Linked DNA regions of Homo sapiens: regions 2 and 3 are each linked to region 1. The links come from fine-mapping of genetic effects on gene expression. A gene starts in region 1. Each other region holds a variant in brackets. All regions are shown on one strand. Distances are from middle to middle. Region 1 holds the start of PACC1 (proton activated chloride channel 1). Region 2 overlaps LINC02608 (long intergenic non-protein coding RNA 2608). Region 3 overlaps PACC1 (proton activated chloride channel 1).

Evidence for each region. PIP is the estimated chance that this variant, and not a neighbour inherited with it, causes the effect.
Region 2: its variant is fine-mapped to the expression of PACC1 in cerebellar hemisphere (GTEx, PIP 0.90).
Region 3: its variant is fine-mapped to the expression of PACC1 in whole blood (TOPMed, PIP above 0.99).

What each region holds. Positions count from the first base shown.
Region 1 is chr1:212,408,742-212,419,268 of GRCh38, forward strand. PACC1 (proton activated chloride channel 1) reads right to left here and starts at 6,145. Exons shown (of 8, transcript NM_018252.3): 1 at 5,981-6,145; 2 at 1,684-1,780. The coding sequence starts at 6,016. RefSeq lists a silencer at 5,797-5,856.
Region 2 is chr1:212,269,512-212,280,038 of GRCh38, forward strand. The region is part of intron 1 of LINC02608 (long intergenic non-protein coding RNA 2608); the gene reads right to left. Among named protein-coding and RNA genes, the nearest start is that of LINC02608, 10 kb to the right of the region's middle. The variant C/A (reference allele first, on the strand shown) is at 5,273.
Region 3 is chr1:212,374,164-212,384,690 of GRCh38, forward strand. PACC1 (proton activated chloride channel 1) reads right to left here. Exons shown (of 8, transcript NM_018252.3): 5 at 5,732-5,874; 6 at 3,399-3,543; 7 at 1,030-1,137. Among named protein-coding and RNA genes, the nearest start is that of SNORA16B, 27 kb to the left of the region's middle. The variant AG/A (reference allele first, on the strand shown) is at 5,738.

The sequences.
Region 1 (10,527 bases):
ATCCATCCAAGAAGTTGAAGTCAGGCTGGGGCTTCATTCATTCACTCAACAAATCTTTATGGCGTGGTCAAGGCTAGGCTGGTGAGCAAAACAGACTGGTCTCTGCCCTCAGGGAGTTTCATTCTAGTAGAACAGGGGTCCCCAACCCCCAGGCCACAGACCAATACGGGTCCATGGCCTGTTAGGAACTGGGCCAATACAGTAGGAGGTGAGCAGTGAGTGAGCATTACCACCTGAGCTCCACCTCCTGTCAGATCAGCTGCAGCATTAGATTCTCATAGGAGTGCAAATCCTATTGTAAGCTGCACATACAAGGGATCTAGGTTGTGTGCTCCTTATGAAAATCTAACTATGTCTGATAATCTGAGGTGGAACAGTTTCATCTTGAAACCATCCCCCAACCTCCATCTGTGGAAAAATTGTCTTCCACAAACCGGTCCCTGGTGCCAAAAAGTTGGGGACTGCTGTAGTAGAACAGACAGACATTAGTCAGACAAACAAACGCACCATTCCAACAGCAATAGCCGGAAAGGAGAGGCGCGTGGACTATGAGACGGTGCTGGAGGGTGGGAGGTAATCTGGCCAGAAGGTTAGAGAAGGCTCTGTGGAAAAAAATGAGTGAGCTGAAAGCTGAAGAATGATTAGGCATTAACTATGTGAAGAAGGAAAGTGAATTCCAGGCAGAGAAATAAAACAACAAAAAGGCCCTGTGGTGAGAGGGAATGAGGCCTAAAATAAAAAAAGATCAGCATGGCTGAGGGCCAGAGAAAAAGGGGATGAGAGGAAGGAAGGAATGGAGAACTACTCTGAAGTTCAACTGCGTTAAGTGGTAGTACCATTCCTGCAAACAGGAAATACTGGGAGAGGACCAAGCTGGGACTGAGATGATCATGAGGTCAATTTTGGACATGTGGAGTTGAGGGAAGCTTTGGGAGATCCAAGCAGAACTATGACATGGGCAGTTGGAAATACAGGATATATAAATTTGCGGTTTGTAGGTAACCTCTGGGCTAGAGATGTAAACATGGGAGTCACGTGTGAGCAAGCAGTGGCTGAAGCAAGGGAGCAGGCCTGGGTAGAACTGTCTATGAGAGTGAGAGAAAGGGGCCTGCAACCAACATTTCATGCCCAAGAGCTGGAGAGTGACCGCAATGGAGCCTGGAAGGAGTGGCCTGAGAAATGCTGCATCACAGAAGCTAAGGGAGCAGCGTGTATCCGGGCGGAAGAAGTAGTCAGCAGTGTCAAACATTGCCGTAGGGCTCCATAAGATGCCAACTGACTGATGGGACCCTGCTTACCCAACTGAGCAGCATTACTGGACAGGCCTAGTATCTGAAAGAGGGGGCCTATTAGATCTTCTTTGACCCGGATATTAGAGGCTCACCTGCTAGCAGTTTCCAGGGAAAGAGGAACAGAAGAGCAGAGATCCAAAGCATTTGCCATTGTATGCAATGACCTGACCTCAGGAAGTGGCTCAAATTGGAGTTAAGAGCAGATACCAGCCTAGACATATCCTCTGTTCCAAGGCTGGTTAAATATGTATGGCTTTAAAACTAGGGCAATACTTGAGACCTGACACCAGGGTGCAGGGAAGGGGGCTCCTCCTCTCCCACAGTTGGCAAGGCGCCTAGACTGGGGTGTCCAGCTGCAGCAACAGCACAGCAAAGCACCAAACGCACTCACCTGGTAAGATACCCGGACCTTGGACTCTGACCGTCTCCTTGTCCTGCTCGTCTGCCAGCTCTGAGTTCTCAACCACCTGGACCAACTCCTCACTCAGCTAAAGGGAGAAGCAAAGAGAGCAAAGACAAGTCAGCTATGTCAGCCTTGCTTTTCTACACTAGAATAAGAAAGCAGAAGCTGCTTGTCACTTAATTGTCACCAAAAACCACATGACATAGAGTGTGTTACAGCAATTTTACAGATGAGGACACCGAAGCTCAGAAAGCTCAATAAACTTTCTGCTCTCTGTGTTCCTAGGACTACTGTAGCAAGTACCACAAACCGAACAGCTTAAAACAACGGAAATGTCTTCTCTCACAGTTCTGGAGGCTAGAAGTCTGAAATTGAGGTGTTGGCAGGGTTGGCTCCTTCTTCTACGAGTGGTGAGGAAATCTGTTCCATGCCTCTCTCCTGGCTTCTGGTGACAGCCAGCAATCCTTGGAGTTCGTTGGCTCGTAGAGGCATCCAATCTCCACTCTCCGCTGCCATCTTTACAAGGTGTGCTCTCTCTGTGTCTTCACATGGTCATCGTCTTGAAGGACACCAGCCATGTTGGATTAGGGGCCCACCCTACTCCTGTATGACCTCATCTTCACTAATTACACCTGCAATGACCCCATTTCCAAACAAGGTCACAATCTGAGGTACCTGGGGTTAGGACTTCAACATATCTTTTTTAAGGAAACACAATTCAACCCACAATATTTTCCATGGCCATAAAGCCAGGGAAAGATATGGCAGGAGTAAAATCCAAGTTGGTCTAGTTCCAAAGCCCATAGTCTTAACCACTTCCCAAAGGAAGAGGAAATACGGCTTAGAGTCTGCTGAGAGAAAAGAGGGAACAGTGAAGGTGGTGTCAGAGCTCTCTCTGGCACTCTGGCTGAAGTCCACTGACTTGGGCTGCAAATGGCAGAACACAGCAGGAAGGGCAGGCAGTCCACCACAGGGATAGGTGCTGATTATAATCAGCAGCCTGGTAGCCAGCAACCTCAACCTCACTTCACCAGTGGTCTCACCTGTCAAATGGGGAAAATTATACCACTGAGAAGGGAAGAAGGACGGAAAGGATACCATGATAATCAACAAGTCTCTGTAGGATTAAGGAGGAGGGCAAGAGAGCTCAAGACCAGAGCTTAGAAGAGAAGCCATCCCTGAATTGGGAGGGAGAGGGGACAGCTTTCCCAAGCACTTTGTCAGGTTCACAGCATCAGTGTTTAAGGTTTTAAGGTTTCTAGACATTTTCATTAAAAACTCACCTCCAAGAGACAAGTGAAAAACATCTCTTACGAATCTATTCTTCTATCTCCCTCTCCACGACTCCACTCCTGCCCCTTAGAATCAGGCAAAATCTCCAGTTTAAAGCCCTCGAAGCACAAAAGAAAAGGCCAGGTGCGGGGCCTGACACGGTGGCTCATGCCTGTAATTCCAGCACTTTGGGAGGCCGAGGTGGGCGGATCGCCTGAGGTCAGGAGTTCGAGACCTGCCTGGTCAACATGGTGAAACCCCATCTCTACTAAAAATACAAAAATTAGCCGGGCATAATAGCGCACACCTGTAGTCCCAGCTACTTGGGAGGTTGAAGCAGGAGAATCTCTTGAACCCGGGAGGCGGAGGTTGTAGTGAGCCGAGATCGCACCATTGCACTCCAGTCTGAGTGACAAGAGTGAAACTCAGTCTCAAAAAAAAAAAAGAAAGAAAAGAAAAGCAACCAGTGGGAAAGGGCAGGGAGGCTGGTGAAGGCACCAAGAGATATAAGCCACTAGCAGGAGCACAGATAAAGAGGTCTCACTGGCCAAAGGGAGAGGAGGATGTTAGTCCTGGGAAATCTCAAAGTTCCCTGATTCAAGCCTCACTCAGGTTCACCCTGACCCAGGTGCTAACACCCTCCCACCAGGTTCCCTTCCTGACTACCCACAGCCATAATGAGCCTGCCTCCTTGCCTGCCCCTGGCCAAATTCTCAGTATATCCCACCCTCCCCAAGGAAAAATCCCCCCTCAGCAAATAAACCTACTCAGAGCTAGGTACACTCACAGAATGGTTCAGGAAGAAAGACGCCGGCCATTTTCTGGGTGGCCCCATTCTCTGAGGAAGTGAGAGACAGGGACTCCAGAACAGGCCTCTGAAGAAGGCAAGGGGAGGGCACCCTTCCAGTGCCTCCCACTTTGGAGATGCCTCCAAAGAGAAACTGAGTCTACCCTGGGCCTTGGCCCTCCAAGCGGGGTAAGTGCCTATATTTTAATAAACATTTTATAAGCCCTGCTAGGCTGGCTATGTGTGGATGGTGAGGCACATGTTCCTGCTAAGCCAGGACCCCAAAGCATCCTGGACGCAGGAGCTGCCCACACCGTTAACAAGAGCTATCATTCACTGTGGGGTCACCATTTGCCAGACACTGAGCCAAGCGCTTTCCACACCAACTTATCTAATCCCCAAACAACCCTGGGAGGTAGGGACTTTTATTATCTTCATCTTTCAGACAAAGAAACTGAGGCTCAGAAAGTTATGTGACTCAATAAAAGTCACACAAACAGCAAGAGGCACAGCCAGGCACGAACGTGGGCTTTCTGACTTTTATCCACTGTGCTCCACACCCTATAAACCTAAAAACTTTCAGACACATCTCATTCCCCAGGATTCCCCCACTGTTTAGGGTACAGAATCTAGGGGTCATGGAATCCACAGCACTGGTTAAAATCCCTCAGACTCCTTTCAGACAAAGGAAACAGATGGAATAAAGGGGATGGGAGGAGAAATATAGAAATCTGTCCAAGGCCAGATTCCAGCCAAGATCCTACACTAAAAAATGGCAAGCCTTAGGCAAATCTCATCTGCCTTCAAGTTGGCTTCTCCCTCCACTGTAGGGCTAAGCCACCTGCTTTATATAGTCCACAAAGCCCTTCTGTGAATCAGTCTTTTACAAAGGGAGATATGTACAGCAGTAACTATTGACTAAGACAGAAGGCAGCAAGTTCATTATGAGAAGGACAGACAGAAATGCAGACGGGTCTGGAAAGCGGACCCCTATGGAACACATGGAACTTGAGGTAGCCCTTGACTTCTGGGGGCATTTTACCCAATGGAGCTTGGCGGAGCGTTGATGAAGGAATGGAGTGAGCACACGCACAGAGGCAGGAGCACATTTTAAAACTGAGTTTCCACTGTGCCAGACCCTAGGTGGGTTAGGAGGTGGCAAAGGTAATGGGAGACATGGCTGCTGTGCTGTTCAGAGCTTTGGGAGCCTGCTGAGAAGTCTGGACTGTTCTGGGCAGACGAAGGGCAGCGTCAGGTCTGAGAAAAAAGGAATGCTCCGAGGTGAAGGCAGGGCCTCAAGGCAAATCTGGAGAGTATAAGAGACTAAAGGGAGCGATGGTAACACAGTATCGCACTCAGAGGTTACAGCAAACACAGGGACACAAACTGGAGGAGGACCGACCTGGAACTGCCTGACTTTGGCCAATGAGGCGGCACGATGGAGGGGCACAGAAGAGGACGGTTGCCAAAGATGACCAAGGTTTGGGGGCCGAGAAGTGGAGGCGGAGGAGGAGAGCAGTTTCACTAATACAGCTGGAGAAGTGAGGAGGCAGGGCTTGCTTGAAGGAAGCGCTGGACGCACAGCCTGCAGCGCAGGACAGAGAAGAGACAAAGAACTGGAAAGTGATAAAGTCGTGGGAGGAGGTGAGACTGGAGGGAGAGACGAAGAGGAGCGAGAACTAGCAGAGTCCATGAAGGCACTTTTTCAAAGTTAGGTGGTCACCAAAAAACAGGTAATCAATCCTGTCACCAGCCGCGGGGACAGCGAGGCCTTGGGCTTGGAGGGGGAGGATGCCGACGATGCCGACCGCGCATCAGATCTCGCCGGGAGGAGGGCGCGGGCGCTCCACTTGTTGCAAAGAACGCCGGGTTCCTCTGGGCCATTGGGCTGCCGCTCCGGCGGGGAGCGCGGAAGGCTGGGCCTCAGGTAGCTTCAATCATTCACCTGCTGGTTACGGGTCGCGGCGCCGGGGACCCTACTCCGGACCTCGGCCATGCAACCCGCAGCATACGGAGAACGCTGGGCGCCCGCTCCGCTGCCCCGCTTCCTTCCTGCCCCTGGGCCGCTCCTCTGCACCCCGGGAGCCCTCCCCTGACGCACCCGTCGGTCCCTCGGAAGAGCCCTCTGCCGCGCAGCCCCGACACCCCCCGCCCCGCATCCGCCCAGGCCCCCGGGACCCTGCTCCTCCGCCTCAAACTTCCCTTCCGTCTCTCACAACCTCGTACCTCCTGGTAGGATGTGGAGCGCTCCTGCCGGATCATGGCACTGACCAGAGCTTCGGCACACCTGAGACCGCCCCAGCCCGCGGCGCACGGACGCAGCACTGCGGCCGCTGCACCTGGACCTACCGGCTCCGCGAGGCGAAACCGGTCCGGAGGGGCGTCCCAGAGACCAGGCGTGGCGATACTCGGCGCATGCGCCTGGCCGCTGCCGCCCAGGAGTCGCGAAAGTGTTGATGGGAAATGTAGTTCTGGGCGGGGGCGCCCCTCACACCAGCTCTCACCCCTGTGGCGGAGGCCTGCATGTGACCCTGGGCCAGCTAAGCTGGTCCTTAGACGCGTGCCTCTGCGTCTCTCACTTCCTCTCTTTGTTGGAGGGGGAGGGACGGAGAAGAGGAGTGGAAAGTGGAACAAAGTCAGATGAGTAGGAGCCCCTAATCTATAATTGCAAGAGGAAGCTTGGCCTGGCGGTTTAAAACGGTAATAAATGTCTGGAGAGCACTTTGTATGTTAGTTACAAAGCGCTCTCACTCACATTATGCCGTTGATTCTGCAAGGAACCCTGTAAGAAGGACATTTTTCTCCCTAATTTACAAATGAGGAAACTGAGGTACTTTGTTTCAGAAAGGATGCGGGTGGAGCGGTAATCAAATGAAGATTATTTCATCCAGGGGTAGACTGCGGAGCCCATGTTCTCTCCATTATTCCAGGGGCAGGAGTACCCCTAGGTTCTTGTCCTGGCTCTGACCCTCCCCTTTAGGTCTTGCAATGCTCTGAGCCCTCCTCTCCTCGCCTTAGAATGCAACTGCTAAACCCTGCCCTGCCTGACAAGGCCTATGAAAGCAGAAAGGAAGGATCGTGCAGAGAAAGCCTAAAGCCGCTGTTCAGCCACAGAAGAAGCCTCAAGCGCTAGATGTGGCGTCAAATCTGGTGTTGGCCCTGTGGCAGGGTGGACCTGAAGACCACATCTTCCTCTCCTCCCACTGCCTGAAACAGCTGTTGTGTGAGGGCCCTCGGCTCCTCAGTGGTGAAGCAGATAGAGGCTGCTTGTTGTGCCTTGGTGAATGCTGCTCTGTGTCCCTTGCAGCTGCAGCTTGGTAACCCCTCCACTCAGGCCACTGGGAGCCTCTTCTCTCCTCAGTGATAAGCAGAATAGTGCCAGCCACATCAAAGAACCCTGGACCTCCTGGAGCATTAGCAATGGGAGGTCCCCATCACCTCTCCTGACCACTCACCCCTATCCTAGGCCCTCTGCTCTTAAATCTGTTATATGGGACAATATATATAGTGCCTAACACATTGTAGGCACTCGACAAATGTTTGTTAAATTTATGAATGGAACACTGATTCCAGCCATTTCATTTAACAGTTGCTTACCAAAACAAATTAACAATAGCAGACCACTAATTAAATTCCTTACTGTGTTAATACAATGGTACTTGATAGAACAAGTTCACACCATCATAGAATATTAGAGCTGGAAGGAACCAGAGAATTCTATTCCAACCCTGTCATTCCTCTCTAGTCTTTGTTGGTGTGACCAAACTGGAAAATTATGGGCTCCCACATTTGAAGGAGATACTGGCTAATAAAATATAAAATATGGCTTAACAAATACAATGTGCTGGGCACTGGGATACAGAAATGGATAAGATACCCTTGGGTCCTGGCTTTCGTGGCTCTTTCATGCAACTGTGGAGAGACAGATCATAAACATGTAAATAATGTTCTGTCCTTGCAGCCCCCAAGTCCTCTCTCCCATTCCTTCATGAGCACACACCAGTCAGGCTTTACTCCCCTCCACTCCACTGGAACAGTGCTTGTCAAGGTCACAAGTGACCTCAGTGTTGTCACATCAGATGGCCATTTTCCCATCCTCCTCTTTCTTGATTTATCAGCCACAGTGGACTTGGCTGATCCTCCCTCCTCCTTGATACGCGTTCCTCCCTGGCTTCCAGGACACCACACACTCCCGGCTTGCTCCTACCTCACTTTGAAGCCATCCTCACAGGGTTAACACGAATTCTGCACAGAAATAGAGTTATAATTAAGCATTAATCAGGCTGTAATTTGACCCACTTCCTTGTAGCCAAAAGTCATGTAGCACTAGATACTGACCATTTGCATCTCCACTGCTCCTACAGGTAGGATTTCTGACATTGGAATCATAAGGCTTTTGCTTAAGAATTGTTTAAGGCCAGGCCCAGTGGCTCACGCCTGTAATCCCAACTCTTTAGGAGGCCGAGGCGGGCGGATTGCCTGAGGTCAGGAGTTCGAGACCAGCCTGGCCAACATGGTAAAACTTCATCTTTACTAAAAATACAAAAATTAACCAGGCATGGTGGCGGGCACCTATAATCCCAGCCTCCCTAGCCTCCCTACTCAGGAGGCTGAGGCAGGAGAATCGCTTGAACCCGGGAGGCAGAGGTTGCAGTGAGCCAAGATCACACCATTGCACTCCAGCCTGGGCGACAATAGCAAAATTCTGTCTCAAAAAAAAAAATTGCTTAAAATGTTTTTCAGATCACAAATTCCAGTGAAACAGCTGACACCAACAAGTTTGAAGACACCAACAGAGGAATGGAATCAGCATGAGAATACAGCTGCTTCTCTCTCTGTCCAATGATTTCACCCTGTTCCCTTTGGCCAATCAGCAGTCTCCACACTTCAGCCTACTCCTTAAAAACCCTTAGAAAAGCCGCAAACTCCTTGAGAGAGGGTTTGAGGTTCCCCTCCATCTCCTCGATTGGAGGCCCTATTGGTAAGCCTCTTTTTCTACTGCAACTCCGTCTTGGCATATTGACTTGCTGCACACATCAGGCAACAGGCCTATTACAGTTACAGTTACTGCTCTTTCTCAGCCTCTCTGCTGACTTCTCCTCATCTCAGCTCTACAGGGCGGACTTTCCCAAAGCTAGGTTTGTTGTTGTTGTTTTGGTTTTTTTTAGATGGAGTCTCGCTCTGTCACCCAGGGTGGAGTGCAGTGCGGCAATCTTGGTTCACTGTAACCTCTGCCTCCCGGGCTCAAGTGATTCTCCTGCCTCAGCCTTCCAAATAGCTGGGATTACAGGTGCCTGCCACCATGCCTGGCTAAAATTTTCATATTTTTAGTAGAGACGGGGTTTCGTCATGTTGGCCAGGCTGGTCTCAATCTCCTGACCTCAAGTGATCTGTCTACCTCAGCCTCCCAAAGTGCTGGGGGAATTATAGGCGAGAACCACCACGCCCAGCCCCAAAGCTAGATTTTCCACCTCCTTTCTATTCACTCCGTAGGGGCTAGTGAAGTGGTCACCTCTAGCCTCATGGCTTGAATTATCATCTATACCCTAAAGATTCCTGCTATAATTGACTTGTGTTCCCCCAAAATATGTTGAGGACCTAGACCTCAGTACCTCAGAATGTGACCTTAGATGGAAATAGGGTCATTGCAGATGTAACTAGGATGAGGTCATATTGGAGTAAGGTGATCTCTCAGTCCAATATGACTCGTCCTTATAAAAAGGTGGAAGACATGGGCCAGGGTGGTAGGATGCTAATATATCTGGGGGATGTCAAGAGAGGCCTCCTGATGGCAGTTACTTTTGAGTTGAGACCTAAATGACAAGAAGGGACTAGCACATGATGGTCTGTGCGGGTACAGGCAGAAGGCACAGGTACAGTACACAGGCCCTAGGCTGAAGCCAAGCAGAAGGCAGTGTCAGTGGAGAGGACCACTAGGGGCATGTAGTGTAACCACCTGATGGGTTCTTCCTGCCTGCTGTATAGACAATATCAATTCACTGAGACCATGGCATTGCAGTAAAGAAAGAGTTTAACTGACTGAGGCCACAGGGAGACAGAGTTATTACACAAATCAATCTCCCCAAGCATTTGGGGGCCAGGGGTTTTCAAAGGTAGTTTGTGGGATAGGATAGGGGTGGGTGCTTGCTATTGATTGGTTGGGGTTGCAATCACAGGGGTGTGGGAAATGGTCCTCCAGTGCACTTAGTCACTGCTGGGTGGGGGCCACAGGAGTGATTGGTGGGTCCAGGTGGAGCCATCAGTGTCGGACATGCAAAAAACCCGAAAAGACATTTCAAAAAGCCAAGCTGAGGTTCTACGATAGTGACGTTATCTGCAGGAGTAATTGGGGAAGTTGCAATGTCTTGTGACCTCTAGAATAATGGCTGGCAATCATTTACATGTATACCTTAGCAGGAGGCATTTTCAGGAGTCAGGGCAAGGGAGAAGCCAGGGCTTTTTTTTCCCTGTTCTCTGCCTCTCACAGTTTCCCTTCCATGGCTCCAGCCCCTGATACAAAGGCTTTTTGTGGTCCTAGCTTCAGCCAGGTGACTCAGGCCCTTAGACTCTAATAAACACCACTGTTGCCTGGCGTGGTGGCTCACGCCTGTAATCCCAGCACTTTGGGAGGCTGAAGCGGGTGGATCACCTGAGGTCGGGAGTTTGAAGCCAGCCTGACCAACATGGAGAAACCCTGTCTCTACTAAAAATACAAAGAATTAGCCGGGCGTGGTGGCGCACACCTGTAATCCCAGCTACTCGGGAGGCTGAGG
Region 2 (10,527 bases), 140 kb before region 1:
TTCTCTGCATACCTCTGTCTTCTCTGGTATTCTGCCTCACAAATTCCAGCCTCCTCAGTCTCCTCAAACTCTGATCTTTTTTGTCCTCCTCATAGCAAGATTGTCATGTCTACTTGGGTCCCCTTCTTTGTGGTCTGGAAAGTGCCTCCAGGCAGAAAGCCAGGAATATTGTAGGGATCTTTTCATTTCTTTCTCTTTTCTCAGGGATCACAATTCCTCACTGTGTATTGTCCAATGAAAACAACTGTTTCATACATTATGGCCAATTTTCTAGTTGTTACCGGTGAGAGGGCAAGTCAAATTCCAGTTAATTTTCATGTCTGGAAGTTGAAGTTTCTTCATAGCAATCAGTTTTTGCACTGCTGGAATTGTTCTTGATAAGTCAATACAGGTATTTTCCAGAGAAGTCCAAGTGTCTTCTCTTTCTTTCTTCCCTGCTGCTACTGACAGATTACTTCCTAGTCTATGCTTTTTCCCCTCAAGCATCTAAGGAATTACATTTCCCTTGTTTTGTTACAGCAACCCATCTGTTCCTCTAGCTTTCCTCTGCTGGTGCTACTTCAGTGTCACTTTTCCTGTGATGGGTAATCTCTGGGGGTAGTGCTTGAGGCTCTCCATTATTCAGCTCCTTTTGGGGATTCCTACTTTGGTGCATGAGGCTTTGCAGTCATCTGCTGGCTGGATCAAGTGCATGCTGAAAAAGACTTGCTCCATATTCAATTTCCCCTTTTGTAAGTGCCCAAATATCAGCTCAAGCTCATCATTTCTAAAATATATAGACCCTACTTTCCTCATTCCAAAATTAAAAAAATATATATTATACATACACATCATTTCCTACATACAAACTGTAGAGAATAATATAATAAACATATATCAATCCAACATCTAGCTGAAAAAAAAAAAGCATTCAGATATAGCCGAAACCCTCAGTGTATCCCTCTCATTTATATTTTCCTTCCTGCCTTCCTTCTAGGAAGTAACCAGTTTTCGAATTTGGTGTTTTCAATTCCCATTATATATACAGGAATGTTTCGGAATATATACATATATATATAAAATTGTGTGTGCATGCATACATTTACATGCACTATATATCCCTAAACAATAAAAAGTATTTTACATGTTTTTAGCTCCACTCATTCTTCCATCCAGGGTTATAGCTTTTCTGAGCTTCTGTGTCTGAATGCAACAGACAAAACAAAGAGACACTCAACAGGACTCTTTGCCAGGGGCTAAGCGTTTTCCCAGTAGAGTGGTTATCTTACGGGGGTGGGGAGAAAAAGGAGCCAGTACAACTGCTTGACTCAATATACAGCCATGATCCTCTTAGGAGAAGGGCAATTCTGGCTACAGCAAGAGTTTGCCATTTGGTTTTGTTGCCTGAACTCATGGCAGAATTCTGGGAAGAACAAAAGGGTTACAAGGAAGAACTAACTGTGCAACTACTACTGATGCTACCACCGCCTCAAGTACCATCACATCTGTCTCACATGCCCATTATGAGTCAGGAACTGTTGTAAGTGTTTTTCAAAGCATTATCTTCTGATTACCAAAACAGTCCTCAGAGTAAAGAAACTAAGGCTACAAAGAACCTTAACCATACCTTTTTCCTGAATATCAGACCCTCATTCCAAGTGTTAATGAGCATCTTTATTCAGAGAGTGCACAGACATGTTAAACACATGTCTAAAATTTTGCCCTGCCTGTAGCTTCTACCCTCTTTTCCTCCCAGTTAACAGATGTGAGATTAAACCTCTTAGATCAAAGTCTAATCAATTGCTGTCCTGCCCCAAAGTCTTCAATAGCTTCCCATTACTTGAAGAATTAAGTACAAACTCCTCACCCTGGCATTTAAAGTCCTCTGCAGTAGGTCCCCGACCTATGTTCCTAGCTTTATCTCCTACTTTTTTCCTATACCGCAGCCAAACCAAACTATTTGCTGTTCTCCAAATATGCCACACATATTCCTCTCTCTGTGACCTTGCTCATGCTGTTTCCCTTACCTGAATGTTCTTCTCCTTTCCCCTACCTAGCTACCCACTGAAATTCTGTGCAATTTTCAAAGTCAATTTTAACCTTCCAGCTGCTCCTCTGTGTCCCTTGTTCTTCATTCTCCAATCATAACATTATTTTTCCTCCTTTAGCCCCAATTGCATTTTGTTGATACATCTTTTCTCTTCTTGAATTATACAGTGATTCTCTGTGTGCTTGACTTTTCTTCATCATGAAACTGTAAACTCCAAGAGAGCACAATCTGTGTCCTCCTCAACTTTGCTTCCCTAGCACCCAGAAGGATATAGTGCTGTATTAAATCATTGGATTGATGTAGTACTTTCTCTCTTAAGGCCACTATGCAAATAATTCACACTGAAACATGCCCAATGTGTATAAGGACTGAAATTGCATCTTTCAGTCTGAAGGGCTAAGGTCATTCTCCAGTCCTAGCCCATATCCTTGACCCAAAGTAAGCTGAGAAACAATCACTGTAATTCAGCGTGACGGAGTGGGACTTATCTGCTGAGTGTAAGAAGAGGCCTTAACTAATCAAGAAGTTGGGAAAGCTGGAAGACTTTGCACAGATCTTGCCTGAAACTAGGAGGAGGTGTTCAGTTGGTAAATTGATTTTTTTCTTCCTCTATAAAGGCATCATAAAAAAGATCTAGGTATAGTTTTGCTTAGAAGGTGGTTAAGAATTTAGAATGCAGGGTGAGTGTGTGTGTGTGTGTCTTGTGTGTGTGCACATGGTGAGCCCAGAGTGACGGCTGCATTGTTCCTGATCTTTGGCCCACAGCCACAGCAGATACAAGGGGTTGCCCTGGGCCTGGTCCTCTCCTGTGCAGTTCTACTGACTGTTTGGCACTGGAGAATGCAGAGGCACATGACAGGCCATCTTTTGCCCATTTGTTTCTGTCATGATTTTTTTTCCTTAAAGAGGAAAAAGAGGCTTGTGTTGTTTGTGTAATTTCCTTCTTTGCTTTGGCCTACACTAGGCTGTCAGCCCATTCTAGTCGTCTTCTTTCTCCAAATTAATATACAACATGTCATCACCTCTTTTTAAAAATAAAGATCCAGCTCTTCAGCTTCAACGACCTTAAAAAGCTCTTTTAACTCAACATTTCTAACCTCAGACTCAATGTTTGCTTCTCTTTCCCTTCCTTCCTCTGACACCCCTCTCTACCTCCTCCCACAAAAGAAAACTGGATCAGCTACTGGACTTTTGTTAAAGGCCCCCAATTTATTTGGTCACCCAATTCAAAACCTTGGCATCATTTGTAATTTTCCTCTTTGACTTGCCACCTCCCTCCTCCACCTTTAGTCAAATCTTTCCAGTGTAGTATTCTTTTGTAGTATCTCTCACATCTATTCCTAAGGCCATTTTTAGTTCAAGCCACTCATCACCAAGAAATGGAGGATAGGATAGGGGGAGGGGACTGGAGTATCACTTGGGATTTTTTTGAAACTACACGTTTTGCCTCTTCTACCCCAAGATTCTCATGTCCACTGGGGGGCCAGGAAGTTATAGCTTGGAAAAGCTCCATGGGTGCCACTGACACACACTGCTTAGCACCACTCATTCAAGCCCTGGCTGCCTGGACACCTGTAATCATCTCCAGCCAATCTCTTTGGCTTCCATTGCCTTCACCTGGTGATCTTAAAACACTACTTCAACATGACATCTTCTATTCAAATAGTCTCCAGCATCTCCCCACTGACTTCAGAATCAGGTCCAAACTTGCTGACACTCCATAATCTGATACTATCTTCTTTCTCTGCAGTGTCCTCAAGTAAGGGTACCCCAGGGTTTTTTTTTTGTTTTGTTTTGTTTTGTTTTGTTTTGGGGGGGATGGAGTCTCACTCTGTCACCCAGGCTGGAGTGCAGTGGCGCGATCTCGGCTCACTGCAAGCTCTGCCTCCCGGGTTCACACCATTCTCCTGCCTCAGCCTCCTGAGTAGCTGGGACTACAGGTGCCCGCCACCATGCCTGGCTAATTTTTTTGTATTTTTTAGTAGAGACGGGGTTTCACCATGTTAGCCAGGATGGTCTCGATCTCCTGACCTCATGATGCACCCACCTCGGCCTCCCAAAGTGCTGGGGTTACAGGCGTGAGCCACTGCGCCCAGCAACCCCAGGGGTTTTCTCACCCTCTTTCCTTATTCTATACACTCCACCCAGGAGAACAAGGGTATTCTTAGAGTTCCATCTCCTATCTGTATACTGATGACTACCAGATCTCTACCTTCAGTACAGATCTCTTTCCTGCAAGCCTGTACTATCCAACTGCTTATTCTCAAAGTGTCCAACTTATTACGTCCACCTCTTCCTCCCTTCCCTGTCTCACTACATGGCATTGCTGCCCACCAGTCACTCAGTCTGGATACCTGGGAATCACCCTTTCCTCTTCTGTGTCCCATACCCTTATCCATGCCCAATAAGTCACTAAGTCATTTTATTTATTTACAATATCTCCTGAGTCTGATCTTGCCATTCCATCTCAGATGCCTGACACAGAGTCTTACTATTTGTCTTCTGGCCCACAGGTCTCCCTTTCTCTGGCCTTGCCCTCTGTAATGAGTTCATCCTCCACACTGCCAACAGTGTAATTTTTCTAGAATGCAAATCTGATCATGCCACTCTCCTGCTTATTAAAATCCTTCAGTGTCTCCCCACTGACTTGAGGATAATGCCCAATAACTGCACACAAAGCCCTTCATGACCCACTCTGCCCTCCTTAATAGACACACAGCTTCTGCCCACTGAAGAAAGCTTATACCAAATTCCTTTGGTTTCCAGATGTAGCCCCTTCTCTCAGGGTTCTGCACCTTATAAGTTATATTTCCACTGCTTGGAATGATTTCCTTTTTTTTTTTTTTTGTCTTCCTAATTCCTTCTGGTTTTTCAATTCTCAGATCTAGAGCATCTTCCTCTAGAAAGCCTTTCTTGCTCTCCACGCCAGAGATTCTGTACTTTCTCCTCTGTGCTTACCTCTGTTACAGCATTTATGAGACTATCTGTGGTGGGTATGGGGTTTGGAGGGCTTTTTCTTTCCCTCTCCAGACTCTCTGAAAGAAGGAATTGTATTTTTTTTCCTTTCTATACCCAGAACCTAGACCAGAAAACGGCCAATAATAAACACTGAACGTTTGTTGAATAAGTAAATAATTGTACCTTTTCCAGCTTTCCCTCCCACTGTTCCCTCCAAAAAGCATCTTCTCCAGTCAATACATCTTTTAACCTCCCATCTACATACTTGTTCTTTCCACTTCCACA[C/A]CTCGATGTCATTTCTCTCTTTGTTGACTGGTGGACAGCAATATAGTGAGACAGAGAGGGGAGGAGGAGGTCAACATAATAAGTTGGAAACTTGGAGTTTAAGAGGCATGCAGTAAGCAGTTGGATAGTGCTTTCCCTTATCTCTTATCTTTTTCTCTATTTATGTAATTATACCTGAACCTCCAGGTCAAGCTTGAATTCCGTCTTCTCCACCTGAGCACAAATACCACCTATGACCTCCCTCCAAATGTACCATCTTGGCTCTCATCAAATAGTGTTCTGAATGAGAAGTTATCTTTTTGTGAATGCATGCCTCATCTCATCTCTCCCCTAGAGCTTGTGCTCTCTTAGGGTAGAGGCCACAATGTTTAGCCATGGGCCTTGCTAATAATAGGCCTTGAATAAATGTGTTGCTGCGTGTTTAGTTCATAGAGTGACTAACCATCCTGGTTTGCCCAAAAGTGAGGGGGTTCCTGGGACACTGGATTTTCAGTACTAGAACTGGGAAAGTCTCTAGCAAACCAGGATGAGTTGGTCACCCTAGAGGTTCTCCTAAGCAGCTTTGAAGGTCTGTGTGTGTAGTCACATGGTGTTTCCTCTGGTGCATATTCCCTGCTTTGTTTCCACCGTTGGACTTTAATTGATGTGAGCTTTCACCATTGGAGACAAGCTCCATGCAGGCTGACTTCGTCTCATTTACCACTATACTCCAAGCACCTGGAACAGGCCAGGCTCATTATAAGAAGTTAATTAATGATTTTTGAGTGAATGAAAAGAAAACATTAAGCACCATTACATCTCTTGATAATCTCATTTTCCTTCTAGGTAGTAGGCTCCAAAGTTCCATAAACACAAAATTTTTAAAGTGCTAGGCAAGAACAATGATCTTATGCTAATCCATTCTAATTTCATTTTTTTGTAAATGTTTTTATACAGAGTTAATAAACAGAGCCTTGAATTTCCACTGATTTTTATAAGAATGGAGAACTCCAGAGATGCTAGAATACAAAAAATTGCTCCTGAAAATGGAAGAAGTCACCAAGACCAAACTCCCAAGGGAAAAGACAGGAGTGTCACATAGATGAAAGAGACTTTAAGGGGGGATCTCATTTGATCTCTTTCTGCCAGATTCTTTATATGAATGGTGCCTAGCATATAGTAGGTGTTAAATTTATGGTAGAGATGATATGTTTGTTTTATTTTGAGACAGAGTCTCGCTCTGTCCCCCAGGCTGGAGTACAGTGGTGCGATCTCAGCTCACTGCAACCTCCGCCTCCTGGGTTCAAGTGATTCTCCTGCCTCAGCCTCCCAAGTAGCTGGGACTACAGGTGCCCACCACCACGCCCAGCTAATTTTTGTATTTTTAGTAGAGGTGGGGTTTCACTATGTTGCCGAGGCTGGTCTCAAACTCCTGACCTCAGGTGATCCACCCACCTTGGCCTCCCAAAGTGCTGGGATCACAGATGTGAGACACTGCACCTAGCCAAGATTATATTTACACTTACCTACAGACACACAAATTTTTGAAAAAGCCATATTGTTTGCATAGAAGTCAAAGCATAGGGTCTGAAAACATTAATTTCCAATTTAATAATTCCTGAAAAACTCTTAGTACTACCAGTATTATCAAATTGTAGACAACACCTTACATAGAAGATAACAGTGAGTTTGTAGGATTTTCAAAGTAATTTGATCCAAAATAGTAAGCCAATGAGAGAGAATACATTGCTGACATTCAGCAGCTAGGTATTTTAAGACAGGGACTGCCTCAAAACCTACTTGATGCTGACACAGAGTCTTACTATTTGTCTTCTGGCCCACAGGTCTCCCTTTCTCTGGCCTTGCCCTCTGTAATCAGTTCATCCTCCATACTGCCAACAATGTAATTTTTCTAGAATGCAAATCTGATCATGCCACTCTCCTGCTTATTAAAATCCTTCAGTGTCTCCCCACTGACTTGAGGATGAAACCCAATAACTGCACACAAAGCCCTTCATGACCCACTCTGCCCTCCTCAATAGATGCAGCTTCTGCCCACCGAAGAAAGCTTATACCAAATTCCTTTGGTTTCCAGATGTAGCCCCTTCTCTCAGGGTTCTGCACCTTATAAGTTATATTCCTACTGCTTGGAATGATTTCCTTTTTTTTTTTGTCTTCAGATGGATGAAAGCAGAAGACCACTTATATATTTACATAAAATATGCATAGTAGAGGAACATGAAGGAACCATATAGTACTTTTGCAATCATTGCTTTTTATGATATACCCAGAGGACAGTTATGTGTTGAAGTTAATCTCTACTTTTTCTTTGCTCATCCACTTCCAGGTCAAATTCTGATACAAGGTGTGGCATAATATATTCTCCTCTTGCAATGAAATTTTACTTTTTGGTAATAGTTGTGTGGAATAAGTAAATTCATTGAGATACAGAAATCTTCATAGTGATGGAGAAATGTGGTAAGCTAATTTCTGAATGGCAGGCATTTTTCTTCTTTTTTTGGTCTTCTCCATATGATAATTTTGTTTTGTTTCTTTTCTTTTCTTTTTTTTTTTTTTGAGATGGAGTTTTGCTCTTGTTGCCCAGGCTGAAGTGCAATGGCGTGATCTCGGCTCACTGCAACCTCCGCCTCCCGGGTTCAAGCGATTCTCCTGTCTCAGCCTCCCAAGTAGCTGGGATTACAGGCACATGCCACCACGCCCGGATAATTTTTATATTTTTAGCAGAGACGGGTTTTACCATGTTGGTCAGGCTGGTCTCGAACTCCTGACCTCAGGTGATCTGCATGCCTTGGCCTCCCAAAGTGCTGGGATTACAGGTAAGAGCCACTATGCCTGGCCTTTGTTTTGTTTCAAGACTGGTTTCAAACATTACTTTTTCTGTTAAATTTTCTCTTTCTTTCCAAACCAAATTAGATCCTATATTTCACTGTTTTGCCACACCATAAAAAATATTTCTGATAATTGTTTGTTCATTTGTTTATGTTGTCCCTCCTCACTAGATTGATTTTAAGGCCCATCCTTATCTACCTCTTCATTCCTAGTGACTGGCATATTGCCTGACAAACAGAAGGCACTTGGAAAGTGTTTGCAGGGTTGAATTAAAGTGTGGAGAGTTTGCTAACATCAGGTTCTTTCGTCCCACTCTGCAAGGGCAAGGGTATATTGGCATGAGTTGAGCCCCTTCAAACTATGTCCTGGTTCCTCATCTATACAGGTAAAGAAATGGGTAGACAAGGGGCTATTGAACATTTATGATTACAGCCCATTTAGATGGGGCAAAAGATTTCATAGTTATGGAAAGATGATTCAGTGATAATCAGAAAGTATAAATACAGGAGCAGGTTTTCGGGGATTAATAATACCTCTGCTGTATCAACAGCCCACATTCAGTCTATCTGCAAATCCTATATACTCCTCGTCCAAAATAAATCTCCAGTCTAGCCATCTCTACTGCCACTGGCCTAGTCTAAGCTCCTGGTTGACCAACACAATAGCCTGTACAATAGCCCACAACAAATGAGGTGAATCATAATAAGCTTAACTAAAAGAAGTTTAAAGTTAAAAAGCAAAAATGGCAGCAATTGAAAATCATGATGTCTAATCATATCAGTATGTTCTTGTGCTTGCAAAATGGCCAGATAGACAATATGGAATTAGAATTCTTTAAAAAGATCTAGAAAAGTAGATAGTAAAATGGTTACTCTAGTAAAGCAGATTAATAGATCTACCCTCTTACTTAGTTACCTTTTTGTGACAAGAGCAGCTATGATCTACTTATTTAACAAAAAACGCCTAATATAATACAATTTTTATTAACTTTCCTCCTACATTAGATCTCTAAACTTATTCATCTTACATACATGCTGTTTTGTATCCTTTGACCTACACCTCCCTGTTTCCTCTTCCTCACTGCATCCCACTGTTTCATTCTCTGTGTATTTGAACTCCTTTTTTTTTTTTTTAAAATCTACACATAAATGAGATCATGCAATATTTTTCTGTATCTGGCTTATTTCATTTAGCATAATGTCCTCTAGGTCCATCCATGTTGTGGCAAATAGCAGGATCTCCTCTTAGAGGGCTGAATAACATTCCATTATATATATATTATATATATAAAATGTGTCTGTATAATGCATATAATGCATGTGTATATATATATTATATATATAAATAATATCCCATTATACACACACACGTACATACCATTTTCTTTATATTTTCGTCTATTGATGGACATTTAGGTTGTTTCCATGTATTCCCTATTGTGCATAATGCTGCACTTAACATTGGGAATGCACATATCTTTACCAGTGGTATTTCATATTCTTTGGATATACATCCACTAGAAGGATTGCTGGGTCATGAGGTAGTTCTATTTTGAATTTCTTCAGGAACTCCATGCTGTTTTTCATAATAATTGTACCAATCTACATTCCCACCAATTGTGTACTAGGGTTCCCTTTTCTCTACACCCTCGCCAACATTTGTTGCCTATTGTCTTTTTGGTAATAGCTATCCTTATGGATGTGAACTGATATCTCCTAGTGGTTTTAATTTGCATTTCCCTGATGATAGTGATATCAAGTACATTTTCATATACCTGTTGACCTTTTTTTTTTTTTTTTGAGACAGAGTTTCACTCTTGTTGCTTAGGCTGGAGTGCAATGGTGCAATCTTGGCTTACTGCAACCTCCGCCTCCCGGGTTCAAGCGATTCTCCTGCCTCAGCCTCCCAAGTAGCTGGGATTACAGGGACCCACCATAATGCCTGGCTAATTTTTTGTATTTTTTTTTAGTAGAGACGGGGTTTCACCATGTTGGCCAGGCTGCTCTCGAACTCCTGAACTCAGGTGATCCACCCACCTCAGCCTCCCAAAGTGCTGGGATTACAGGCATAAGCCACCGTGCCCAGCACCTGTTGACCATTTTTATGTCTTCTTTAGAGAAATGTCTGTTCAGGTCTTTTGTCCATTTTTATTTTATTTATTTATTTGTTTTTGAGACAGAGTCTCCCTCTGTCATCCAGGTTGGAGTGCAGTGGCACTATCTCGGCTCACTGCAACCTCTGCCTCCTGGGTTCAAGTGATTCTCGTGTCTCAGCCTCCCAAGTAGCTGAGACTACAGGTGTGCACCACCACGCCCAACTAACTTTTGCATATTTAGTAGAGATGGGGTTTTGCCACGTTGGCTAGGCTGGTCTCAAACTCCTGGCCTCAAGTGATCTGCTTGCCTTGGCCTCCCAAAGTGCTGGGA
Region 3 (10,527 bases), 35 kb before region 1:
TTAGGATGAATGGATAAGGAAAATGTGGTGTGTATATATATATATAAAACACAATGGAATATTATTCAGCCATTAAAGAATGAAATCCTGTCATTTGCAGCAAAACGAATGAAACTGGAGAACATTATGTTAAGTGAAATAAGCCAGGCACAGAAAAACAAATACCACACGTTCTCACTCATGTGGGAGCTTAAAAAAAAATGAGTCTCATGGAGGTAGCGAGTAAAATGGTGGTTACCAGAGGCTGGGAAGGGTTGGGGGAAGCAGGAGATGAAGAGAAATTGGTTAATGGGTACAAAAATACAGTAAGATAGATGACATGATAATACAGTAGAGCAATTATAGTTAACAAGAATGTATTATATATTTCAAAATAGCTAGAAGAATGTTCCCAATGCAAGGAAATTATAAATGTTTGAGATGATGGATAACCCAACTACCCTGATTTTTGATCATTAGACTTTGTCTGCATTTATCAAAATATTACATGTACCACATAAATATGTATATTATGTATCAATTTTTTTAAAATATGGCATTAATTAATGCTTTGTTAATATTTTATTTGTACCATTATGTTCTTACTACAAGTAGTATTTATCCTACAGGGAACCATTAAGAAAAAGAATAACTTGCAACTGCAGTAACCTGTATAGTGGTAACTTAATGCTTTCTACTCAATTTATTCAACGAACATTACTACTAAGCAGCTACTTTGCACTAAGCACTCCACTATATCCCAGATAAATTATGGTGAGCAAAATGAAAGTCCCCCTCCTTTACAGAGAAAGTCTAGTGATGAAGACAAGACCAAACACAAAGAATATATAACATTGATGTCATAAATATAAATTACAAGCTGATTTGTGCTATGAAAAAAGATGAGGACAGGTAGGTAGACTTATCAGTCTACAAGAATGAGCCAAAAGACTTCAGGGCAGCATCATAATCTTAAATAATACATCTATCATAATCTTAAATAATACTATCATAATCTTAAATAATACTATCATAATCTTAAATACTCACATCTTGGACTTTCTGGATGAAAGGATCTTTCCATTCAAAGACCACAAAAAACAATTGAGCACTTTTTTTGGCAGCTGGCCTCTGGTCAATGTAGTTAACCACACTTGTCTAGATGTGGAGGAGAGAAAGCAGTGTTACCACCTCTGTGTGCCCTTCCCTTGCCTGTGCCCAGCGAAAGGAGAGAGAGTAGGCAGGGGATCATAGTCTGTGGTTCTCCTCACACTATTTTTTGGAGAGAGAGTGGCAAAAATCTCATATATACAAGATCCTGACATTGGTAGCAAAGCCAAGGCTTTACCTTGGTTTCCACAGTTCTCTGGGGAAATGGGATCTGTGATTTACAATAGGTGTTTTGGATTGTCACTGAAATTTGTCACTAGGTATCTGTACTCACAATTAAACCATATTCAGGCCAGGCATGTTGGCTCACGTCTGTAATCCCAACACTTTGTGAGGCCTAGCCAGGCAGATCACCTGAGGTCAGGAGTTTGAGACCAGCCTGGTCAACATGGTTAAGCCCTGTCTCTACTGAAAATACAAAAATTAGCCAGGTGTAGTGGTGGGCGCCTGCAATCCCAGCTACTCAGGAGGCTGAGGCAGGAGAATCGCTTGAATCTGGGAGGCAGAGGTTGCAGTGAGCCGAAATAGTGCCACTGCACTCTAGCCTGGGGGACAGAGCAAGACTCTGTCTCCAAAAAAAATAAAATATTAAAAATAAACCATATTCAAACTACCATGTAAGACTCACAATTAAAAGCAATAAAAATTCCAAATTTCAAAGTACTTGGTTTTCAGATCAAGTATTTCTCTGAATTTTCAACGCTTGTTTCAACCCTTCAAGTTTACAGGGACAAAGCACAGCTGCATAGATCCACACAGCTGAGCATTCCCTGTAAATACTTAGTAGGTGTGCTTGGTGAGATCTGGTTGTCAATTACTAAAGACGCTGTGTGGTGTAACGGAGAGCAGACAGGTAACAAAGGCAGAAACCAGCTCCACCCAGAGGCTCAGATCCATCATCGAAGCTGAGCCTCAGCTTTGCCACCCACAAAGCTGAACAAAATGCCTACGTCACTACAGTATAGGGGCATACCTATGTGAGAGCACTCTAAACTCTAAAATGTGATTTTAAAACACATTTTTTAGTTTTGTTCAAAAGAGCTCATAATGCCAACAAAAGACTTCCAATTTAGACAGTAATAAAAGATGCTAAAATTTCTTTAATGTACAGGTTCACTAGAGTTTTCACCCTTTGGTTTCGGATCACAGTGGGAGCTATCAGAAAATCCAGGGTAGATGGGGTTGAACTTAATTGTAAGGTAAGTGAACACAGTCTCCTTCCTCAGAGCTGCTGTGGGGCCAGATAAGAAAGGACTTGAATTTCTTGGAGCAAATTTGGAGGTAAAAATCTGGGAGATGACAGTTATCTTACAAAACAGGAAGATTTTAAGGTCCAGTCACCAGGAGGGGTTGTCACTTCCCAAGGCAGGAAAAATAGCCTTGCTTCCTTGAAGAAAACTGGCTTTGAGCCTCTTCCAAGTAACCAGCCTGGACTAGTCTGAGGAGCTAGGGCTCATGACAGGGCCCTGTTTAAGACTAACCCAAGACAGTCTTCTCCGGCCTAACTTCTGGCCAGTGATGGCCTAGTTGACTGGAGTGTGTCCTTCTGCTCCAGATGAGCATCCCGAGCCACTGGGATACAAGAAGAAAAGACTAGCTTTTTTTACTATTTATTTTTATCTCATCCTTTTAACATTTCTATTTTTGAATGTTTAAAGTGTATATAACACTAAGACAATAATAGTATGTTATATCACCTGCAGAGTTATATGTATATGGAGTATATGATCAAAAAGTTTTTACTAATGGGAAATCTGATCAAAAAGCTTTCAGCCCACTGGCCTAGCAGCCAGGAGATACACCTGGCATCTCTCGCTGTGACACCTGTGAGAGCTGAAGAGGACCTTAGGAAAAGGATCAACATGCACACTTGGGACCACTGTGTCTAGTCTCTCTTCCCTGCAAATAATCAATCTGCTAGGCCACTGCCAGCCCCTCAAAGTGCTGCTAGATGCAAGACATCAGACACAGCTGGGCGAGTTACTGACCTCTCTGCAAGCCACAATGATCTCTGCCCCACACATGCATTCCGTGAGGACTGGCCGGTATGTGCGCTGCCTGCAGAAGCACACACAGACTCCCTGGCATAGCATATGAAGCCCTCCATGGGAGTCCCTTCTCATCCTGACCAAGGCCTACTCACCCTTAAGGCCCTGCTCAAAGGAGCCTTCTCTGCAAAGCTTCCCTCCACCTCAGACTCGAATGTGGAAAAGTCACCAGCAGTTTCAAGCAAACCCAGAGCCACCTACCTCCTGCCGGAACTCCACTGCTTCCCGCCCATCCTCCTCCTTGGTCTTTACCAGTGACATCTTGACCCAGGTGCGGAAGCCCCCAGAGAACTTCCAGCTGGAATAGGCACTCTCACAGGCCTGCATGAAGCCTACCCTGTTTGGGCTTGGAGGAAGGAAGGAGAAGGAAGATCCAGGTCAATGCAGGTCTGGCAGCAGGAGTCGAAGCCCCCACTGCAAGCTGGTTTCTTTGCTGGCACAACCAGGATGCTGCCCACTCCCTGCCTCCTCTCCAAATTGTGATTGCCTCAACAGGGCTGTCAGTCACCAGCAAAAGCAAGGCCCATCCCTCTTTTCTCTCCATTTGGTTTCCAAATGGAGGGGTAGTCACTGGCCTCAAGGCAGGAACATGATCCTTGAAGCTCCCAGTGGGAGAAATCTTCCTCCCTCCTCCCATCATTCCTATCGATGGCTACCAAAGCTGTCGGCAATGAAGTTGGCAGAAGCTCCCCAGAACATGGCGCTCACAGCTCCTCAGAGAACTCTGGACTTCAGCAGAGCCTGAGGAAGCCCTCACCAGCCTGTCAGCTCCCATGGAAGGCCCAAAGAGGGGAAGAGGGTTCCTTGGGGAGGTCTCAGCCAGATGGGTCACCTACAGCATCAGCCCCAAGACGGTGCAGATGCAGCAAAATCAAAGCGAACATAAAAACAAGTAAAAACTGCAGCAGCATACCGAGGAAGCTCACGAAAGGAGCGTGGAGTGGGGGTGGGATCCCGGGGAAAGTCTTCCAGGAGGAAGGCAAGATGGCCAGCTTGAAGCAGGGAAGGGAGAGGGAATTCTAGGTGGCAGAAAGGGTGGAAAATGCTAAGGCAGAGGCTCCGAGCTCTGGGGTGGAAGAACAAAGCAGTGGTGGTGTGGAATGGAGGCAGCTCGCTGCATGTCCAGCTGGGGAGCAGCCTCCCTGCCCCTGTAGCTGCCTCCCTGCTTGCTCTGAATGGAGCCTCTGGGCTCAGCAGGACCTGGTAGGAACTGAGTCCCTCTCAACTCAGGCACATGAAGAAAATTCTCCTGCCCTCTAGGCTCCACGGTGTGACCCCAAAGCAGTGTGTGTGGAGCAGACAAGAACTTTCTGATGGTCAGGGGACATTCATCACTGTAAATCGAAGACTAAGAGAGGTGGCAGAGCTTATATCCTCATACCAGAGATGCAGTAGACCCTTGAACAACACAGGTTTGAACTGGCTGGGTCCACTCACGTGCGGATTTTCTTTTGCCTCTGCCACTCCTGAGACAGCAAGACCAAACCTCCTCCTCAGCCTACTCAACATGAAGGCGATGAGGATGAAGGCCTTTACAATGATCACTTCCACTGAATGAATAGTAAGTATATTTTCTCTTCCTTATGATTTCCTTTTTTTTTTTTTTGGAGTCTCGCTCTGTTGCCCAGGCTGGAGTGCAGTGGCGCAATCTCAGCTCACTGCAAACTCTGCCTCCTGGGTTCAATCGGTTCTCCTGCCTCAACCTCTTGAGTAGCTGGGACTACAGGTGCCCGCTACCACGCCTGGCTAATTTTTTGTATTTTTAGTAGAGATGGGGTTTCACCATGTTAGCCAGGATGGTCTCGATCTCCTGACCTCGTGATCCGCCCACCTTGGCCTCCCAAAGTGGTAGGATTACAGGTGTGAGCCACCACACCTGGCCATGATTTTCTTAATAACATTTTTTTTCTCTAGTTTACTTTATCGTAAGAATACAGTCTATGATATATATAACCACGCAATATGTGTTGTTTATGTTATTGGTAAGGCTTCTGTCAACAGTAGGCTGTTAGTAGTTTTGGGGGTCAAAAGTTATACACAAATTTTTGGCTGCATAGGCAGGAGTGGTTAAGTTTGGTAACCCCAAACCCCAAGTTGTTCAAGGACCAACTGTATTTCAGGCAAACATACATTAAGCCCGCACTAAGGGCAAGATGTGGTTCCTGTGCACACTGTGGGGGAAACCAAGGAACCACACAAGAACTTGCTCTCAAAGGGACTTACAAATCAAAGGCAACTTCCCCTACTCCTCAGCAGCCCCAGGCAATGGTGAGACCAAATGATCTCTCTAGAACCAGCCAGCACTATGTGCATGGAGAGCCAGCATGCTCCTCCACACCAGATTTGCTTAACTTTGTGATAAGATGTTGAGTGGACCGGCCAAGCTCATGAGGTCCCTTCCTGGGCCAGTGGGTCATCTGAGAATGCCCCTTCCCTTCCCTGCCCTCACCCCTCCGTCTCTAGCCTTGGGACATACACAGCTGGAATAAGATAAAAAGTAGACAGTAAGCCCACTGTGAACTCTAAAAGCCCACCTTTGC[AG/A]GAACTCCTGGAAAGAAGAGAAGAGGAGGTAATCAATGGCGCTGAAGTCCTCACTACTCTTGTTCAGGCGGAACTGGAGGAAGACCAGCTCCCGCTTTTTCACTTCCCGGGGCCCCTGGACAATCAGGGCAGATTTCTGCAGAGAGAAAAAGGACAGAGTCTCAGTCCTGGGAGAGTACACAGAGGCCTCTGGGTCTGAGGGCAGAAGTACTGACTGGAAAGCCCATAGCTCCTTGCCCAGTGGTCTCCAAAGGGACCACTAGCCAACAACAGGACTGGGCTGGGACTCATGCTCATTCCTGGGGAGTTTTCCCCATATGATGCCCAACCAGAGCTGAATGCAGCTCATCCTCTGTCCACTTTTCTCATTGGTTCTTTGAGTTATGGAAGCTCTTAATTTAGCAAGGATGATCACTTTCATCTGTTATGTGTGCCAATCTTTTCTTCCAGTCTGTCATTTTTCTTTTAACTTTGTTTCCAATGTCATTTGTCCTATGGAAACTTTAAATTTAACGTAGTAAAACCTTAAATCCTTTTCTTTACGGCTTTGGGTTTTGCTTGCTGAGGAAAGCCAAAATTATATCAATATTCTCCTCTATTTCTTTATAGCACTTTTTAATCTTTTTTACATTTAGATACTTTATATACCTGGCTTTAAGCTCTGTATATAGTGTGAAATAGGGCTCTAACTCCTACTTCCCAAACAATGCATAGAGACAGGTTTTGAAGCCTCTTCCCCTCCCTCCTTTATCCTATACTAAATTCCATGCAGAACCAATATCTATGTCTGCTTCTGGCCCTAGCAGAGCCCACACATTTGTCTGTCTCTGTCCAGTACTGTGCCACTTTGATTCCTGTGGTTTTTCCACTGTTCTGAGATCTGGGAAGGTGCTCTCCCTACTACTCTTCCCCATCCCCAAACTTGTCTTGGTTATTTTTGAACGTGTTCTAAGTATGCTTTAAGACTAGCTTGCTTAGTTCCACAAAAAAATTCACTGGGACTTTTAACTGTGATAGAAACTGAATTTATAGATTAATTTTAGAAAAAAATGTCTTTTACATCAACTTTTATAAATAAATGCTCTACAGAGATTTGAAAAAGAGTGAGTACACTGTCAGTTACAAAGTTTTGTGCCCCCACATGTATACACACACATACATACTCTAAATTTATTAACTGCACTATTCAATTCTTATCCTTTCTAGTTTTTGTCTATTTGATCTGTGAATTTCTGAGAGGGGTGTTTAAATCGTGCTCTAAAGTGATGGTATTTTTTACTTCTAACGGGTTTTGCTTAAAATATATAAATGTCATGCTGTTTTGTACATAAAGTTTTGGAACTGTTCAGTCGTCTTAGTGGAGAGTATGGAGTTGAACCTCTTATCAATATTAAACATCCTTCTTGCAAACTTTTGCACGTGGAATTCCACACTATTAATATTGTCACTTCTGGTTTTCGTTGCATCTTCTCAAGACAGCTTTGTCCATCTATTTATTTTTCAACCTTTCTGTACCATTTTGTTTTAAGTGTGCAACAGAAAGCACTGTCCCTGGTTTCTATTATCCATTTCTTCCTTTAGTACTAGAATGGCTTTCCCAACCCAGATTTCAGCAGAATCCACTCCCCCTGCTGGAGCCTCATCTCTGCCCTCAAATGTAGCCACGTGATAAAGTTCCTAATGTGCGAAAGAAAAGGGGACTCATTCAACTCCACCCCATTTCCTGAAAAGGGAACTGCTTGCCCTCCACCTTCCCAGGCCTGGGCATGTGCACAGACACACACACACACACTGCACACACACACACACACACACACACACACACACAGCCCACATGGACCAGAACAATGCCCAGGGGACAGCACAGTGACACACACACACACACACACACACACTGCCCACATGGACCAGAACAATGCCCAGGGGACAGCACAGTGACAAGACAAAAGTCATGGCTGGACTATCCTATGAGGCAGTACTGCCCACTACGCCACACGGCCTGCATGCCAGGACTGTTCTCAGAGAGAGAAGGAGGCTTCTCCCTCATCTCAGCCATTGTATTTGCAGGTTTTGTTTTTATTTGGTAGCTTAGCCTATACTCTGACTAATACACAATTTGTTAGCTGACACTGGAGTGTTCTTGTTTTTTTTTTTTGAGACGGTGTCTCGCTCTGTTGCCCAAGCTGGAGTGCACTGGCGTGATCTCGGCTCACTGCAAGCTCCGCCTCCCGGGTTCAGGCGATTCTCCTGTCTTGCCCTCCCAAGTAGCTGGGACTACAGGCACGTGCCACTACACACGCCTGATTTTTTTATTTTTATTTTTAGTAGAGACGGGGTTTCACCATGTTAGCCAGGATGGTCTCGATCTCCTGACCTCGTGATCCACCTGCCTCGGCCTCCCAAAGTGCTGGATTACAGGCATGAGCCACCACGCCCGGCTGGAGTGTTTTATGGTTGCAAAAAAAATCAAAATGAGGGAACAGCCAAACATTTGGGCAGTGGGAAAATGGCGGGCAGTAAGGAAATAGATAAGGATCCCGCAGGCTGGAAAGGTGGCAAACCTTATTGTGCCAGAGCAGAGCATTTGGTAAAAAATAACTACCATTAAATTGAGAGCATGAAAGAAAGCACCAGAAAATCAGCAAAATTCCGAAGATTTTACAAATACAACAGGATGAGACCCTCGACTGGGGTCACTTTCACATGAACTTGATTAGATGCGAACAGCCAGAAGCCTACACATTTCTGAAATCTCACTGCAAACATAGGCAGTGGCAGGAGGCAGGTAAGAAGCCGCCCTCCAAGTTTGCAATTGTTTAGCCCTAAAGCTGCTCACACAAGCAGGAAGTGAGTGGCACAAGCTGTGCAGCCACCAGGGAGGGCGTATTTTCTAATGTCCACTTCAGATATGGCCACAGAGCATTACCACCAAGGCAGAAGCTCCCAGGGGACGAGGCCAGAGCACACAGGAGTCTCTTTCTGAGGGCAGCAACAGGTTCAAACCAAGGAGCTTACTTCATGCCAAGAAGGCGTCTCACCGGTCCCACCCTGCAGGGTTCCACCACTGCTGCAGAGCAGAGCTGCGGGCCCTTCCCCTTCTTCCTTTTCCAAATGGGAGCTCTACTGCTCTCATCATATTCTTCCTCCACTGCTATATGCTGGTTTGGGTAGGAAACTTGGTGGATAGGGAGGAGATAACTTCTCTGTTAGTTTATAGCTTGTGGACTTCAAGAAATTGATGGAGGAGATGAACCAACACTCAGACTTGGGGGCAGTAGCTGCATTCAACTTCATTTCCATAAAAACAACTCTCTCTTTGTGCCCTTATTTCAAGGGTTTTTACACTCTTTAGTCGAATTATGTAACTATTGTAACAAGTGCAACTGGCCTACACAGGTTTGGAAATGACCCTCACTGACTCCTCCTAAGCATACACTTCAACTGGGGGAGGAGAGGAGGGCATCCAGAGAATAGGCACCTAGTGGGACGGAAGCAGCCACGAGTTTTCATTAGCGTGTTTTACAGAGAGATGAAGGGAGCTGGGAATCCAGACAAAGAGCTTCTATTATACATATAACTCCACATTGGAATTGTTTAAAAGTTGCTTTCCTTTTTGTTTTAATTAGCTTCTACTTCCCTATTCTAGAGTCCATTCTATTTGTTCATCTTGGTCCTTTTCTGTCATTGGTTTCATGCAAATGTCTGGTGACCATTAATTCTCCATTCTTATTTATGAATGAAGGATTAGGTTGACTAGTATAGGTCTGGGTTTTGGTTTCTTCCAAAGTAGTAAATTTCTGTTTCTCTAATAGGCCTCTCCCTTGCATGGGAAAGCTAAGTATGCTCTGTGGAAGCACACTGAGTTTTCCAGTGTGTTTTACTCTGGGAAGAGTCCTTTCCTTTAGTTCTCTCTCCTTTTCCATTGTAGAAGTCTGCTCTGTTTCCTATGCCTACACAAAGAATCATCTTCCCTTCGCTTCTGTAGAGAATGGTTCCAGGGTCTTTTACCCAGAGGCAACCATCCCCAGCGGCTCTGCATACCTGGGGAGGGTATAGGGTGTGTCTGGCCCAGCCAACAGGCAGTCCAGTAATGACTACCCTGCTCTCTAACGGTGCTGATTCCAAGCTGGGGGTTTGGAAGGAAAGCTTGTACCTCTACAACAGGTCTCTCCTTCATCTGTTTTGGGTTAGGGATTTGCTCTAATTTGTTTGCTCCACCAATCTGGCCCAAGCTGTTTTTTATGCTTTATACCAGTTCCTCAAAATGTCTGGTCCACTGGTGATATCCTTTCTTCACGTGCAAAGCTATTATTGATGTTCTAGTCTGTTCTATCTCATTCCTTAGAGAATCATTTTAGCAGGATTTTAGGAGGGGGCCTAGCGTTCACATACTAACAAAAAAAAAATTAGTGTTATTCTTTCATCTTAAAACCCACTAACAGTTCCCTGTTACCCAAGGGAGCAAGTGTGGCTCTACAGCACGATGCATGTTCTTTTCTCATCTGGCCATTACTCTGTCCACAGCTTCATCACCCATCAGTCTTCCAGGGCTCCTGACCCTATGAAACATTTCCCCACCAACTGCAATTGTGCCCAGAGGCACAAGTACAACATGTCGTCTCTTCCCTTTAGGTCATGGTGCAATTTCCTCTGCCTAGAAAACCTTTCCTTCCCAATTTCATCTGGAAAACTATTGTAGCCCCTTTCAATGCTTTCTGAAGCAAGAATATGAAATGAAAAAGATGAGATGTAAATCAATACAAAACGCCTACCCTGTCTTTGAAACCCT